Regions from separate parts of the Homo sapiens genome. Here region 2 is linked to region 1. Evidence: fine-mapped expression QTL. A gene starts in region 1. The other region holds a variant in brackets. All regions are shown on one strand. Distances are from middle to middle. Region 1 holds the start of KLRF2 (killer cell lectin like receptor F2). Region 2 overlaps CLEC2A (C-type lectin domain family 2 member A).

The links. PIP is the estimated chance that this variant, and not a neighbour inherited with it, causes the effect.
Region 2: its variant is the best candidate, but not a certain one, in a credible set for the expression of KLRF2 in unexposed skin (GTEx, PIP 0.74).

The regions. Positions count from the first base shown.
Region 1 is chr12:9,879,788-9,884,192 of GRCh38, reverse strand. KLRF2 (killer cell lectin like receptor F2) reads right to left here and starts at 2,704. Exons shown (of 6, transcript NM_001190765.1): 1 at 2,528-2,704. The coding sequence starts at 2,597. It also overlaps a transcript of CLEC2A not described here.
Region 2 is chr12:9,919,539-9,923,943 of GRCh38, reverse strand. CLEC2A (C-type lectin domain family 2 member A) reads left to right here. Exons shown (of 5, transcript NM_001130711.2): 3 at 1,712-1,878. Among named protein-coding and RNA genes, the nearest start is that of CLEC2A, 11 kb to the left of the region's middle. The variant G/A (reference allele first, on the strand shown) is at 2,729.

The sequences.
Region 1 (4,405 bases):
GCATGTATAATAATCCTCTTTCAATTTTATCTACTTTTTTCCACATATTAGCACTTTTGAATAAATTGGATGTATACACTTTTTTCACAAAACTATGACAGGTTCCTTTTATATGCAGACATCATATAATTAATATCTCAATCTACAATCATTTTAGTCAGTTTGCCAGGCTAGTGGCCAAAGAGAAAGCAAAGTAATTTGAGATACTCTGATAATTATTCCCTATTTTTTATTCTTTTATCTATAAACAAACATTTAATTTCATCACCTTGGTTGTACATTTCACAAATAATTTGTCTTCTAAGTCATAATAAAAGTGCTGTTTCTCAAATCTAATTTCTGTGTGGATGCTTTACTTCAATAGGTTTTATGGATTTACTGCATTTGATTAGATCTATAGTATATACTTAGAGAATTTACTGTATGTAGTGTACCTTTTGAAATTTGCTACTCAATTGTCTGTATTACTAAGTCCAAAATAATTTTCTTTCTTTTTCTTCCCTGTAGATATTTCTGCTGTTCAAGCAAATATGGAAAGACTTCTACTTAATTGAAAATCGTCAAAATACATTTCTGCAATTTTATGAGAAAATATCAATCAAGGGTATATGGATCTGTAGTTAACAAGTGCTCTTTCCATACATGCCAGGGAGGGAGACTTTAAACTTCTTGCCAAATAAGATTTATAAAAAACTGAACAATAGACCAAAAATTAATATTTTCATGTAAGCCATGATTTACATACTATATCAAGCCAGGTGAACAGAGAGCTGAGTACATGAAGTGCAGTATGCTGGCCTATCCTAGCACTGCTTGGCTAGATGCCATTGGCTTACACAGGGCTATATGAAGAAATTGTCTTACAAAATCTGCTGGTGCTACTATTGCAAGAACACTAATTGTATTATTTTATGTGCTTCATGAGAACTCAGGAAAATATTTTTTCTGATTTAGGATCAAGATTAATTATATCAATCTTAAGGAATAGGTGTAACTTTATCTTATACACAATGTGAACTGAACAACTGGTAAGAATTCCCTTAGGTCAGTAATAACAAGGAAGCTTGGAAGCAAATGTATAGCAAGCACAAACATGCCTACAGTAATTTTTCTGGCCCAATTTATTTTCCCAGCCCTATCCTTCCTTCATTCATAATTTAAATGGATATTATCTTATATTTTATGTATCAATACTCAGATTTTAAGTCTCTGTACACATTTGTATATTAAAAAGTAGTTTATAGATTAAAAAATAGTAAATTTAGTTTAACATCCACATAAAAGCATCATCAGGTAGATTTTTCTTATTATATATCAAAGTATTGAGATTTAAGAAGGCTAAAAGCTTCTGCCCAGAGCCATACATTTAGTCTGTGGGCTTTAGGGTCTGAATAATTTTTTTTGTTTTTTTATATATGGAGTCTTGCTCTGTCACTCAGGCTGGAGTGCAGTGGCATGATCTCAGCTGACTGCAACCTCCGTCTCCCGGGTTCAAGCGATTCTCCTGCCTCAGCCTCCCAAGTAGTTGGGATTACAGGCACACGCCACCATACCCAGCTAATTTTTTTTGTATTTTTAGTAGAGACGGGGTTTCACCATGTTGGCCAGGCTGGTCTCGAATTCCTGACCTCAGGTGACCCGCCCACCTCTGCATCCCAAAGTGCTGGGATTACAGGCATGAGCCACCGTGCCTGGTCTGCCTCAGTCAATTTAACACCAATGGTACTAGTTTTTGCTGCATGGAAGTAAGTTACTATTGAAAAAGTAAACATTTGTTTCATGATATTGAAACACAAAAAAGATCTGAGTCTTCAGATAATAACAAAAGTGTCATTTTGTGGGGGCAGGGGGTGCAGGGGAAGTTTGCATTTGCTAGATATAAAATGAGATTGTACACGAGAATGTTCAATACATATGGCAGAACTGCCACTGCGACTGGTAATTCTGAATTTCTGGCCTATGTCATCTTAACTTAGGTCTTGGCTATTTCAACAAGATTGTTTTCAAAATTCCTGAAAAAGCAAACAAAGCCAACCACAGAGCAGCCCTAAGGAGCAAAGATTAATGTTTTTTTGTTTTTTTTTCTCTCTTCTCGCATTCCCAGTAGATTGTTCTACCAATCCTATAGGGCTTTTACGAAGATTAAAAATATTATATATGTATAAGCATAAATATATATATAAGCATATATATACGCTTTAAGTTTATATAAACTTTAAGTTTTGTAGGAGGAAGTTTCTGTAAAAACACAATTTTTCAGCCTTTTCTTCGAAAGTGATGTTCTTATGCTACAACACACAGGATTACACATCGTCATATTCGCATTTCTCTTACCTCATGGCTCTGAAAATGCAGACTTTTTATTGTTGATGCTTTCATGAATCTAAATAATCTAACAGACAATTTATGACCATTTTTATATTCCTTATTATGATCAATGTTAAGATGTTAAAAATATTCTAAGATAATTCTCTTCCTAGAAGAATAATGAAATTTTAAATGCGGTGATGGGGAGCAGTATTCCTACCTTTAGATTTCTGCTTCGATTTACAACGATTCTTGAAACTCAGCGTCATATACCCATCTTCATTCTCCATCTCTTCAAATGTCTAATGTCTTATTATCCAGAAAATAGTACAAAGAAAATGGAAACTAATCTCAACCTTGGATATGTCTCTTTGGCACAAGGTACTAAAAGAAAACTAAAAGGAAGGCCAAAAATAGTCAAAATTTACTCAGACACAGATGTCTAAAACCACACAGGATGTGTTGGTAAATGAAAATGGATATAAGCTTGTTAATATCTGGCTACAATTCTGTGAATTTCAAGGTAAAGGTAGCTAGTGTGTTCCACTGTTTTCAACAAATGGACTTGTGTGTTCCTGCCACTTGTGTGCGGTGTATTAGAAACATAATTCCTTCCTTCATGTCTTTTATAATAAAGTAAGAGAAAAAATAAAATAAAACAAATAATCTCTAAACAAACAGAACAAATGTCTAGGTAAATAAAAATTCAAATTAAAAAAGTTAAAATAGCAATTTTGTTATTTGGGACATATTTGACTAGTAGAGTCCAAATAACGATGGTTAGATGGGACAAAAATAGGAAAATAAAAGATCAGCAAGTCTCAAGTTAGTGAAAATCGGAATCACTTGCAAAGAATTTAACTTTTTAAACTTTTTTGTTTGTTTGTTTGTTTTTCAGAAAACGCCAGGCAGATTTTCCTTCAGTAGGTGTGGCAGTTTATTTTGTGTCAACTTGGCTGAGTCACAGAGAGTCCAGATAGTTGATCAGACATCATTCTGCTTATTTCTGTGAGGGTGTTTTTGGATGGGATTCATATTTAAATAGGTGACCTTTGAGTAAGGCAGATTTGCCTCCTCTGTAATGTGACTGGGCCTTATTGAGTCAGTTGGAGCCTTGAATAGAACAAAAAGACTTGTCTTCCCTGAGTGAGAGAGAATTCTCCAGCAATGGCCTTCAGACTATCTGCAGCATTAGCTCCTCCTGATTCTACAGACGGTGGACTTTGCATTTGAATTGAGCCTTCCTAGGTACCCAGTCTGTCCATGCTCATTTGCAGAATTTTGACTTACCAGCCTCCATAATCACATTCCTTATTTTATATATATTTCACTTAACACGCACACACACACACACACACACACACATGCTAATGGTTCTGTTTCTGCTACGTGGCCACTCAATATCAATCCATTGATTTAACACCGAGTGTCTGGGGAAGGTGGCTGACTGTTTCCCACAGCACATGTTGTGTTCACCTGATTATTGAGTCTCCTCCTCAACACTGGATGTCACTTGTGAGTATTTACATGGGAATGAATATTTACACACGCCGCGTCCATTCTGCATGATCTCTATATGTACCTCTTAGCTTCTCATTCATTTTTCTATTTTGTTCTTTTTGAGTTTCCGACAAGTCATCTCACCTATTAGTTTCTGATAAGATGATTTAGATGTATTTCTCTGAGTGCTTATCCTTCCTGTTAGGTTCACAACCAGACATATTGTCCAAACTTCTGTTCAGTGGGAAGACTTACCTTCACTTCTGTCTTTCACAGTCTTCTCCTGAATGGGACTGTAGTGTGGCATCTATTCCAGCTGCCGTATTTTACATAACCACTGATAAACTTATTTTTTTCAACTACTTCAGTGTAAGATCGTACAGAACCCTCTTTTCCATCCCCAACCCGGGTCATAGGTATGGTTGAGGTGGAGATAGCAAAGGAATGCGAACATGTGCCATCGGAGTCTGAGCCATCTGCTCATGCAGTTTACTGTGCTTCTTTGGAACTGTTCAGGCCTTGCCTCCAAAATGGCACAATTATGTTTGTGATAAAATGCTTCTGTGCACTTCTAAACATAGGGTTCATTGGGTCAAAG
Region 2 (4,405 bases), 40 kb before region 1:
CCACTCCCCCAACCCCAACATCACCCCAATGTGTGATATTCCCGTCCCTGTGTCCATGTGTTCTCATTGTTCAATTCCCACCTATGAGTGAGAACATGTGGTGTTTGGTTTTCTGTCCTTGCCATAGTTTGCTGAGAATGATGGTTTCCAGCTTCATCCATGTCCCTACAAAGGACATGAACTCATCCTTTTTTAAGGCTGCATAGTATTCCATGGTGTATATGTGCCACATTTTCTTAATCCAGTCTATCATTGATGGGCACTTGGTTTGGTTCCAAGTCTTTGCTATTGTGAATAGTGCCACAATAAACATACGTGTGTATGTGTCTTTATAGCAGCATGATTTATAATCCTTCGGGTATATACCCAGTAATGGAATGGCTGGGTCAAATGGTATTTCTAGTTCTAGATCCCTGAGGAATCGCCACACTGTCTTCCACAATGGTTGAACTAGTTTACAGTCCCACCAACAGTGTAAAAGTATTCCTATTTCTCCACATCCTCTCCAGCACCTGTTGTTTCCTGACTTTTTAATGATCACCATTCTAACTGGTGCGAGATGATATCTCATTGTGGTTTTGATTTGCATTTCTTTGATGGCCAGTGATGATGAGCGTTTTTTCCTGTGTCTGTTGGCTGCGTAAATGTCTTCTTTGAGAAGTGTCTGTTCATATCCTTCACCCACTTTTTGATGGGATTGTTTTTTTCTTGTAAATTTGTTTAAGTTCTTTGTAGATTCTGGATATTAGTCCTTTGTCAAATGGATAGATTGCAAAATACCTAATGCATGCGGGGCTTCAAACCTAGAAGATGGGTTGATAGGTGCAGCAAGCCACCATGGCACATGTATACCAACGTCACAAACCTGCACACTCTGCAGATTTATCCCAGAACTTAAAGTTTAACAAAACAAAACACAACAAAAAGAGCACAGAGACAGAGTTGAAACACATTATATCTTACACCCTGTGTAGTAGCCTGTATCCACTTCTGAGCACTACAAAATAATAATAATAATAATAAATCATGGTGGAGTAGGGGGTGCAGCCTTTGGAGTTTGCCCTACATTTGAGCATATAGTTGGCTCTTTATTACTTGCATTAATTTATTCAAACATGTGGAATGCATGGACTTGTCTTATTCTGAATACTTAGCACCTAAATAAAACCTTGAGACAGTAAATCTCCAAACAATGTGCTTTCATTATTATTCCATATTCTTCAGCACTGGATGTAAATGAAATGAAACAAAGGTTTCACTAATTCTTATGTTTCACTTATGTGTTGTCCTTTATGGCAAGTTTCACTTTCCTAGCTTGGGTGTTTTCATAGGTAAAGGAAAGCCTCCATTTCTTACCCTAACCTCGAAACCTAAATTACATGCAGATCTCCAGCACTCTACCTTGATTGCAGAATTTATAGCTACATTTTATGCATTGTTTTTGGCAGGATATTAATATAGATTATGAGAAGCTAGTGGTTCCATTTCTCAAAATAGAAGCCAGGGAAATAGAAAAAAGTATGCACTGCTTGATCACTAAATGATCTTCCTTACAGACAGGGGAAGTTAATTCATCCTCATTCTGGGGAGGGGGGAAGCTAACTTACGGGCCTCAAACTGTGGAAGCAAAAAGTAAAATTAATACACCTGAATGAGTAGAAACACTTTTTAACATATGCTTTATCTGATCATTTCTTTCTTTTTTTTTCAGCCACATGGTCCAAGCATGCTAAACCTGTGGCATGTTCAGGGGACTGGCTTGGAGTGAGAGATAAGTGTTTCTATTTTTCTGATGATACCAGAAATTGGACAGCCAGTAAAATATTTTGTAGTTTGCAGAAAGCAGAACTTGCTCAGATTGATACACAAGAAGACATGGTAAGAAAACAGAAAAGTCTTCAGTAATTTCAGAGATTGTTTGTATAAAAACATAATAAAACAATAATAGCTAATACTATAATACAATTGATCCTTGAACAACATGGGTTTGAACTGTGTGGGTTCACTTATACCTGGATTATTTTTCCTCTGCCACCCTTGAGACAGCAAGAGCAAACCCTCCTCTTCTTCCCCCTCCTCAGCCTACTCAATATGAAAACAACGAGGATGAAGACTTTTACGATGTCTTCACTTCCACTTAATGAATAGTAAATAGATTTTCTCTTTCTTGTGATTTTCTTAATAACATCTTCTTTTCTCTAGCTTCCTTTATGGTAATAATACAGCATATAATTCAAATAACATGAAAATATATGTTAATTTACTTTTATGTTACCAGTAAGACTTCCAGTCAACAGCAGGCTACTAGTGGCTAAGTTTTCTGTTTTTGTTTTTTGTTTGTTTGTTTGTTTGTTTTTAAGACAGAGTCTCACTCTGGCACCTAGGCTGGAGTGCAGTGGTGCAATCTCAGCTCACTGTAGCCTTGAATTCCTGGGATCAAGCAATCCTCCCACCTTAGCCTCCTGAGTAGCTGGGACTACAGGTGCAGACCACCACTCCTGGCTAATTTTGTTTATTTTTTGTAGAGATGAGGTCTCACTATGTTGTCCAGGCTGGTCTCAAACTGAGATCAAGCAATTCTACTGCCTCAGCCTCCCAAAGTGCTAGAATTAGCATGAGATACCATAAACAGCATGGTTAACTTTTTGAGGAGTCAAAAGTTATATACAGACTTTTGACTGCACAGGCGGTCAGTGCCCCTAACTGCCACATTGTTTGAGTCAACTGT[G/A]TATGACAATGTGTGCTCAACAGTGTTCTAAGCACTGAAACTATATAATCTCATGTAATCTTCTACTAACACCCATGAAGGAGTTATATAACTCTCCCTACTTTAAAGATGAGGAAAGTCAGTCACAGAAATGTTATGTAACCCAGCCAATGACACAGCCATAAGTTGTTGGGCTGGGATTTGAACCCAGGCAAGATGACTAGTGATGCCATGTCCTTTACCACAATGCATACTGTTTATGTATCTAAATGTCTTCGTTAAATGTTCTTAGATTATTAAGTAGATTTTTTAAACCCTTTTCAATTTGCATTCTACCAAGCATAGACAGAAAAAATTTTTAAAAATACAGCTCTTAGAATTTAGAGACAAGGAAATGAAGGAAATATGTGCACTTCGAAGACGCGAGTGAATTAATGGAAGTAAAGAGGGCAAAGAAGGAGACACGTGGACTCTAGGGACACAGAGTAAGAAAATAGATTAGTTTTTAAAGAAAAGCTGGGGGTTGGAGAGTGGCCAAGATGGCCGACTAGAAGTAGCTGGAGTGCGCAGCTCTCAAAGAGAGGAACTGAAGGGGTGAGTAAATACAGCACTTTGAACTGAAACATCCAGGGTACACGCAATGGAACTAATCAAGGAAACAACTCAACCCATAGACAATGAAGAAAAGCAAGGCAGGTCGATGGCCAACCTGGGAACGACATGGAGCCAGGGGAACTCCCCTCGCCCAGGGAAGTGGTGAGTGAATGTGCAACCCCTGGAACCCATGCTGCTCCCATGGATCTTTGCAACCCTCGGGTCAGGAGATCCCCTTGTAAACCAACTCCACCGGGGCCTTCAGTCTGACACACAGAGCTAAGTGGAGCTTCAAAAGAGCAGCCTCTCAGGCATGTGCAGTGACCCGGGAGCCTCAGATAGCCAGGAGTTCCAGGCTTCCCAGCAAAAGTAGTTGAAACTCCAGCGAAGAGGGAGGTTAGACCCCCTTACACATCCCTAGTAAAGGGGCTGAATCCAGGAGGCTGAGCAGCGACATTCTGCAGGACCCACTTCCATGGCATCTCACAGGATAGGACCCACTGGCTTGGAGTTCTAGCCAGCCATCAATAACAGCATTGCACCTCCCTGAAACAGCTCCCAGAGGGAGATGTGGGCAGCCATCTTTGCTGTTTGGGTGACTTAGCCATCCAGCCTTCAGGCTTTGGAGAGTCCAAGTTGACCAGGGGTGGAAGTGGTCCCCCAGCACGGCACAGCTGCTCTACAAAAAAGTGGCCAGACTGCCCTTGTAAGTGGGTACCCAATCCCATTCCTCCTCACTGGGCAGGATCTCTAACCAGGGTCTTTAGCTGCCTCCTACAGGTGTTCTTGGGCCGGTAATAGCTATGTACCTCCCTGGCACAGAGCTCACAGAGGGAGGGGCAGGCCACCTTCTTTGCTGTTTTGTAGGCTTCACTGTTGGTACCTACAGGTATCAGAAAATCCGAGGTAAATAGGGACTGGAGATGGCCACCAGCATACCACAGCAGCCCTATGATAAAGTGGCCAGACTGTTACATGAGTGCCCATCTCCTTGTCTCCTCACCAGGAGGGTCCTCCAGGCCTGGGCCTCCAGCCCCCCTCGCAAGCGCTATTGAGCCAGTAGCAGCTCTGGAATGTCTTAGAGAGAGCCTCCAGGGGCAACAG